Homo sapiens: one gene and its partner. The protein of the gene in region 1 purifies or fractionates together with the protein of each later gene. This does not show direct contact. Each region holds a gene or a part of one and is shown on either strand. Other genes may lie near its edges.

Region 1 (3,818 bases):
GGAGGAGGACGGGGCCTTGCCAAAGGTCAGCGCTCAGGGATGGAGCTGAGCCTGTTCTGTGCTCTGCTCAATGTGTCCCTGGGCAGAGCCAGGCCTGTGGGCCTTTTCTCTGAACCCGGGGTGCTCAGAGAAGACTTCCATTTGCCTGTGTAACGCCCCTGCCCCAGCCCAGGGCTCCCCTGGACTTCCTTGCTTCCAGGCTGAGAGAGAGACCAGCTTTGAAGGAGGATGTTTTTTCCCCTGCAGGGAAGTTCTGGCACATCGCTGACCTGCACCTTGACCCTGACTACAAGGTATCCAAAGACCCCTTCCAGGTGTGCCCATCAGCTGGATCCCAGCCAGTGCCCGACGCAGGCCCCTGGGGTGACTACCTCTGTGATTCTCCCTGGGCCCTCATCAACTCCTCCATCTATGCCATGAAGGAGATTGAGCCAGAGCCAGACTTCATTCTCTGGACTGGGTGAGTACAGTTGAGGTGGCAGCTACCCTTTGCCAGGCATCTGCTATGTGCTACATACCAGTCTGGCCCTTTGCCCACATTATCTCCCTTAATCCTCACATCAGTCTCACGTGAGGCTGAGGAACCTAAAGCTCAAAGGAATTTTGTAACTTGCCCGGGGATTCCTGAGTCCAACTGATTCCACAGTCTGTGTCCTCGACCTCCATGTCTCCTGGCTGTGGCAGAACGCAGCTCTCAATCAGGCTTTTGGACGTGGTCCTGGCATGCCTGGGCACCCGGAGAGTGTCCAGGTTTTAAGCTATGGGTGGACACTGGAGCCATTTCCCCTGGGGCTTAGGGACTCTAAGTCTGAGAGGTCCAAGTGCAGGGAGGGAAGAAGTTATGAGGGCTGAAGGTGGCCCAGCCTGGGGTCCTAGTGTCCTGGCCAGCTGCTGGCCACCCCTGGGCTGCCCAGTGGTCCTGGATTTTCTCACCAGTCAGAGCTCTGCTCTACAGAGTGACAGCTTGAGGGCCGATCCCACTCAGCCGCAGAGACCCAGTTTCTGCTTCCTGTCCAAGGTTGCTGCTCTAATTCCTTCAACTTTCCTGGGAACTTGCCTCCTTATCATTCAAGATTCCCCCATTCCGGCTGGGTATAGTGGCTCATGCTTGTAATTCCAGCACTTTGGGAGGCCGAGGCAGTGGATCACCTGAGGTCAGGAGTTTGAGACCATCCTGGCCAACATGGTGAAACCCCGTCTCTACTAAAAATACAAAAATTAGCCTGGCGTGGTAGTGCACGCCTGTGGTTCCAGCTACTCGGGAGGCTGAGGCAGGAGAATCGCTTGCATTTGGGAGGTAGAGGTTGCAGTGAGCCAAGATCACACCACTACACTCCCAGCCTGAGTGACACAGCAAGACTCTGTCTCAAAAAAAAAAAAGAAAGAAAAAGAAAAAAAGATACCCCCATCTCCTCGCTTGCTCCCTCACTTGGCAGGGCAACAAGTCGTGCTCAGTTGTGGGGTAGATGCTAGGGATCTGAGATGATGGACACCCACACTTGGCTCCAAGGAGCTCACGTTCTTGTGGGCAATGCAGACAAACCCATTGACCCTACCCTTACATCCAAGCAAGGAGAGAGAGTCACCTGGGGGGATGTGGGAACTTCACAGGGCACATGATCCCATCTGGCAGGATTAGGGGAAGGACATCCTGCAGGAGGTGGTGGAGCAGGGGAGCTCTCGAGGAAGGCTGGAAGGAATTCTGACTTTGCGCTCCCTCTACCAGCCTCAGTGGACACTTCTATAAGGCAGGGTGAAACCCATGATGCCCCTAGCTGTGATGTGGTTTGTGGGTGTGACCAGGAAGGACCCTCAGATGAACCTGCCAGGCTGGACACATAAGAAGACATGTGACATTGTCTCAGGAGGGGCCTGGACAGCTCTGGCTTCCTTGGGCTCAGGAATCAATCTAAGAAGAGAGTGAGATTTGGTCCATGACCTTGGGCCTGCTCCCTTGAGGGGAGCTTCTGATTTCTCCGAGAAGGGAGAGCATGTGTAGCATTCAGACAGATGGGATCCCTCAGGAAATTCATGATCCTTTAACAGATGCACATTTTTTTTTTTTTTTGAGATGGAGTTTCGCTCTTTTTGCCCAGGCTGGAGTGCAATGGCGTGATCTTGGCTCACCACAATCTCCGCCTCCTGGGTTCAAGCGATTCTCCTGCCTCAGCCTCCCGAGTAGCTGGGATTACAGGCATGCGCCACCACGCCCGGCTAATTTTGTATTTTTATTAGAGACAAGGTTTCTCCATGTTGGTGAGAGTGGTCTCAAACTCCCGACCTCAGGTGATCTGCCCGCCTCAGCCTCCCAAAGTGCTGGGATTGCAGGCGTGAGCCACTGCACCCGGCCACAGTTGCACCTTTTTTTCCTGGGAAATCTCTGAGACCTTGAAGAGGTACACAGCATCAGATGAGAAGATCTCTAGGACCCTTTACAATTCTTCAATTATAATAAAATTTGACTTCTAAGAGAGCTGCAGTCCCTTTGAGGATGGCCATTAGAAATTAGGTATGTTTTACTACTCAGGAGGCTGAGGCAGGAGAATCGCTTGAACCTGGGAGACGGAGGTTGCAGTGAGCCGAAATTGCGCCACTGCACTCCAGCCTGGGTGACAGAGCGAGACTCCATCTCAAAAAAAAAAAAAAAAAGAAATTAGGTGTTTTTTTGTTTTTTTTTTTTAAGATGGAGTCTCGCTCTGTCGCCCAGGCTGGAGTGCAGTGGTGCGATCTCGGCTCACTGGTGCCCCCTACCACGCCTGGCTAATTTTTGTATTTTTAGTAGAGACAGGGTTTCACCATATTGGCCTGGCTGGTCTCGAACTCCTGACCTTATGATCCGCCTGCCTCGGCCTCCCCAAGTGCTGGGATTACAGGCGTGAGTCACCGCCCCCGGCCTAGGTGTGTTTTTTATCAGACAGAATTAGATTCTCTAACCTAGAAATTAAAAATATGAAATTTTGTCCCTGTGTCTTTGGGTTTCCGGCCTGTCCCCAGGGAGTTTTCAGGGCAAAACAGCCCCTCTTGCTGCCCTAATGTGGGTATCAGAGACACTATAGGATGCAGTGGCTGTGAGCATAGACTCTGGGGCCAGGCTGACTGGGCTCAAATCTTGGCCCCACCACTTTCTAGTGGTGTACACTTAGGTACAATTTTTCCCCCGTGTCTCTGGTGCTTGATTTAGGATAGGCAAAATTCTTAACTTTTCTGTGTCTTGGTTTCTTTATCTGTCAAACGGGCCTAAACTAATAATAGAATTTACATTGCAGTGTTATAATGGGGAAAAAATTAGTGGCTGTGGCAACAACACACAGAAAGTGCCTGGCAGAAAGTCAGCCGGTGTGAGCTTCTAGCAGCAGTATTAATACTATTATGCTAATTAGTTTCCCTGGGGGAATACCTGGGCAGCAGAGGCCCCAGGATTTTGACTGTCCGGACGTCTCCCCATCCCTACACTCCACCTGCCACCATTCTCCTCCCCTTGCCAAGCATTTCTAAGGTGGACCCAAGAATTTTGATTCATGGCATGAAGGGCACAGTGGTCCCAGGGCAGAATCAGTATCTGCCCTGGAAAAGATCTGAACCCTACACTTGAAGCCAGCTTCAAACTCCTTTGAACTCTTCTGGAAAGGAACAGAATTCAGAGATGGCTTCTCAACCCTGAGCTCCCTCGGGGTTTGCAGATGGGACTGGAACTCCAGAGCTTTCCTCTCTAAATAATAATATTCATTACAACCTAGCAGCTACTCTTACTGTACTATATTATGTATATAATTTTCCTCCTTGATGGATACCTAACAAACACTCTGTGAGTAAGAACT
Region 2 (3,818 bases), on another chromosome or scaffold:
AATTCCATTGTTTCTACCAGTCCCCACCTTCCTTTTTACCACCTCTTTGCTTAGCAAGGATATTTCTCTTTCAAGCTGTTTGCCATTTTGGTTATTTTGCTCTTCTGACTCCTTTGGAGCAGTTTTGTCTCCTTAGTCTACCTTTTCAACGGACTTTCTGTGCAGATGGTTTCCTCTTGCCACTCCTTTTCTTGTTAACTGATTTATTATCACTGCTCTTCAATTATAGTCCTGTTCTGGCGTGGTGTAATAGCTGGCAGTAGTGGCAGAACCTTCTGTGTATATCATATACACCCCTAAGGTGTGGTTACTTGATGTGTCATTTCGTTAGAGGAAATTAGTAATCACGATTTTATTGTTGATTTTTCTTTGTATAGAAACCCATGAAATAACAGCTGAAAGGAATAAAACATATGATAATTAGGATTCAGCGTATTTTAATAGTTCTGTACCACTTAGTTATCTATTACTGCATACTAAATTATCCCAAAGTTTAGCATCTTAAAGCAGCTATCATTTGTTATATAGTTTCTGAGGGTCAGGAATTGGGGACTGGCTTAGCTGGGTGGTTTTTGCTCTGGATCTGTTACCAGATTGCAGTCAAGGTGTTTGCCAGATCCGTAGTCATCTCAAGGCCTAACTGGGTCTGGAGAAACTGCTTTCAGGTTCATTCAAGTGGTTGTTGGCAAACCTCAGTTCCTTGCTGATTTTTGGCCATAGGCTTTAGTTCCTCCCACCTTATCCTCTCCATAGGACTACTTAGCACATGTTAGCTTGTTTGCCCCAGATGGAGAGGTCCGAGAGAGTAGGTAAGTAAGAGAGTGCCGAGGATAGACGCCTGTTTTCAATAACAGCTCAGAAGTGATACACTAGCCCTTCTCATATTCTCTTGATCACAGACCAATCCTAGCACAATGTGGAAGGGAACAGTACAAGGGTGTGAATACCAGGAGGCCGGTATTATTGGAGCCCATCTTGGAGGCTGACTACCACCGTTTCCCCTCTAACCTCCACTGATTCAGTTCCTCCCATATGCAAAATATACTCACCCCCTCCCAAGGCCCTCAGAAGTGTCATCCCATTACAGCAGCAGCTCAGAATCTAGAATCTCATCATCTAAATCAGGACCAGATGTGGATGTGGCTCCTTGGGTGTAGTTCCTTCAGTATAGCTTCTTTAGTACACTGTTGGCCTGAGAGACTCGAGAGACCATTTATCTGCCCCACATATACCTAACATACAGTGGTGGGATGGGCATAGGATAACTCCTGTAGCCCTTCCACTTCAAAGGGGCGGAAATGGGAGACACAAAGGAGTCATTGGTCCATGGCAATTCTGGAATCAAGTGGCAAATGTTGGATGTTCTTGATTAGGTCTGAAGGCCTGGAATAATTCTCCATGGCTGTCTGCCCTGCCCTCTAGGCTCTTGGTTTCCACCCCTCTGAGTGATCCCTAGAAAGCATGTGCTTTACAGCTGGTTGGTTTTCTCAGTCTACTTACTGCTAATAGAATTTTGAGAGTTCAAAGACTTTATTTTATCCTATTTCTATCCCTTTCAATTCTAGCTGGCAATGCTTCTGCATATGTATTTCTTCTAAAAACTTGGAAGGTCTTTGGTGCATGTTACTGGCTTCCATTTTATTAGTCAAAAGCCACACCACCTACACATCTCTGAAATATATTGAGTTTCTGCTGATAACAGTGCTCTTAATTAAGCCCTATTGTGTGATTAATTGGATTTATGAGGTGCATTCTTTATAATTTTTAATAGCACCCTTTGTTGGAATGATTAGTGCCTTTGATCTTTCTGGGTCTTAAGATTTTATGGTCATATCCTTGATTTTATCTTTGGACCATGTTTTCCTGGCAGTGCCTTGGATTTGGTCTTTGCTCAGAAGTTATTTCTTAATTTTAGCATTGTTTCACATCTGGAGAAGATGAGAATTTTTTAAATCCCCAACATCCTGGCTCATTTTTGTTTAACAGCCTTTCCTTTAGCTTATCTCTTTTTTTCACATAAGCACAAGAAAAACCCAGGTGGCACTGTGAACACTGGTTGGAAATCTTAGTTACATCACCCCATTGATTTTTTACAGTCCACATTACTGCAAGGAATGGTGTTGCTAAGCCTTCCGCCTCTTCTTAACCAGGATTCCTCTTCTTCTGCTTTCTGATAACATTACCTCACTTTCCTCCATGTCCTCACCTGCATCCTTACCAAAGACTATGAGGCTTCTTTCTTGAGGTTTTCATTTACACGCCTCAAAGCCCACTGCTTGGTTCCAAAGCCATTCCCATGTTTTTCATTTTTGTTACAGCAGTACACCACTTCCAGGGACTAAAGTCTGTATTAGTAATCTATTGCTATGTAACAAATTATTCCAAAGTATTAGTAGTCTGTTGCTACGTAACAAATTACTCTGGTACTTAGGAGTGTAAAACAAGCCTTTATTATTTTACAAAATTTCTGAGAGACAGGAATCGGGGAGTAGCTTAGGAAGGTGGTTCTGGCTTTGGGTCTCACCATGTTGCAGTCTAGCTGTCAGCTGGGGTTGCTGTCATTTCAAGGCTTGGCTGGGCTGGAGAATCTGCTTCCAGACTCACTCAGGTGATTGCTGCAGACCTCAGTTCACACAGGAGCATGAATACAAGGAGGCAGGGATCATGGAACAGGCCGTCTTGGAGGCTGGGTACCTATTACTACCTGCCCTAGTTAATGATATCCCCACCCATTTTTTCCCCCAAACCAGAGATCGGGGAGTCATCTTAGACTCCTTCTACACACTCCCTATTCCTACCTCCCATCATTCGGCCATCGAGCCTTATACATTCCACCTCTTTAACGTTTTTCATATTAATCCCTTCTTCCTCATTCTTGCTGGTGCTGCTTTAAATGAAGTCTTCACTATCGCATCTGTACTATTGCAGTAGACTCCCTGCTCCAATCCATCCTCTACTCTGCGAGCAGTCTTTAGAATGCAGATCTAATCATGTTTTTGCCCAGCCGAAGAATCCCTTCAGTATAATTCTCCATTGCCTGCCTGTAAGAAAGAGGGCAAATTGTTAGTTGACCCCTTTCTCCTTGTTCCATCATATCTTCTGATATGAACTTTATGTTTCATCCATGTTGAACTACTTAAGAGTTTCCAAATTTGCCATGCTGTTTCACGCCCCACAATCTCTGCCTAACGAACTCATCCTTTCTGTGAAGGTTTAGCTGACCATAAGAGAAACTGATTACTTCTTTTGTGCCAGCCCTGTACCTTGTACTTAACACAGTCATATTTATTTACACATCTGGCTTCTTTACTAGATGAGGAAGTAGTTAAGGCAGGAATTGTGTTTTATTTATCTTTGTAACCCTGGTACCTAGTACAGTGCCTGGTATAAGGTGGGTACTCAGTACATAGATGTTAAATTGAAATTTAGTGTCTGAATCAGGAATCTTAAGACCAGTTTTCGCTAGAATATACTGCTAATGATGTTTTGTGTTCAATTTTTGGTAATGTGAGAACCCTGAAAAGCTAAACAGTAGGATATAATATTAAAATAAGGAAGAGAACTTATTTTATTAATTGCTAATAAACTATTAATTATTGTAGACTCACTGTGTCTCAGGGTACTATGCCAGGTCCATTTTATGCATTAGCATTTAAATCTTTCCAATAGTACCATGCCATAATGGCTGTGAAATACCATTTTATAGATGAGGCAGCTGTAATGTTGACACAAGATACCAAGAAAGTTTACATAAGGTGCCAAACTCTCAGATCTAATAAGTGGGATAGAATTCAAACTCTGATTGACTTGGCTTCAAA

Evidence for each region.
Region 2: the proteins of SMPDL3B (region 1) and FARSB fractionate together in Homo sapiens (co-fractionation; one large-scale study listed by BioGRID). This does not show direct contact.

Annotation. Positions count from the first base shown.
Region 1 is NC_000001.11:27,944,986-27,948,803, forward strand, and holds part of SMPDL3B (acid sphingomyelinase-like phosphodiesterase 3b isoform 1 precursor), read left to right. Parts: intron 1-246; coding exon 247-460; intron 461-3,818. UniProt on the Homo sapiens protein: Lipid-modulating phosphodiesterase. Active on the surface of macrophages and dendritic cells and strongly influences macrophage lipid composition and membrane fluidity. Acts as a negative regulator of Toll-like receptor signaling.
Region 2 is NC_000002.12:222,649,509-222,653,326, reverse strand, and holds part of FARSB (phenylalanine--tRNA ligase beta subunit), read left to right. Parts: intron 1-2,427; exon of another isoform or gene 2,428-3,041; intron 3,042-3,818.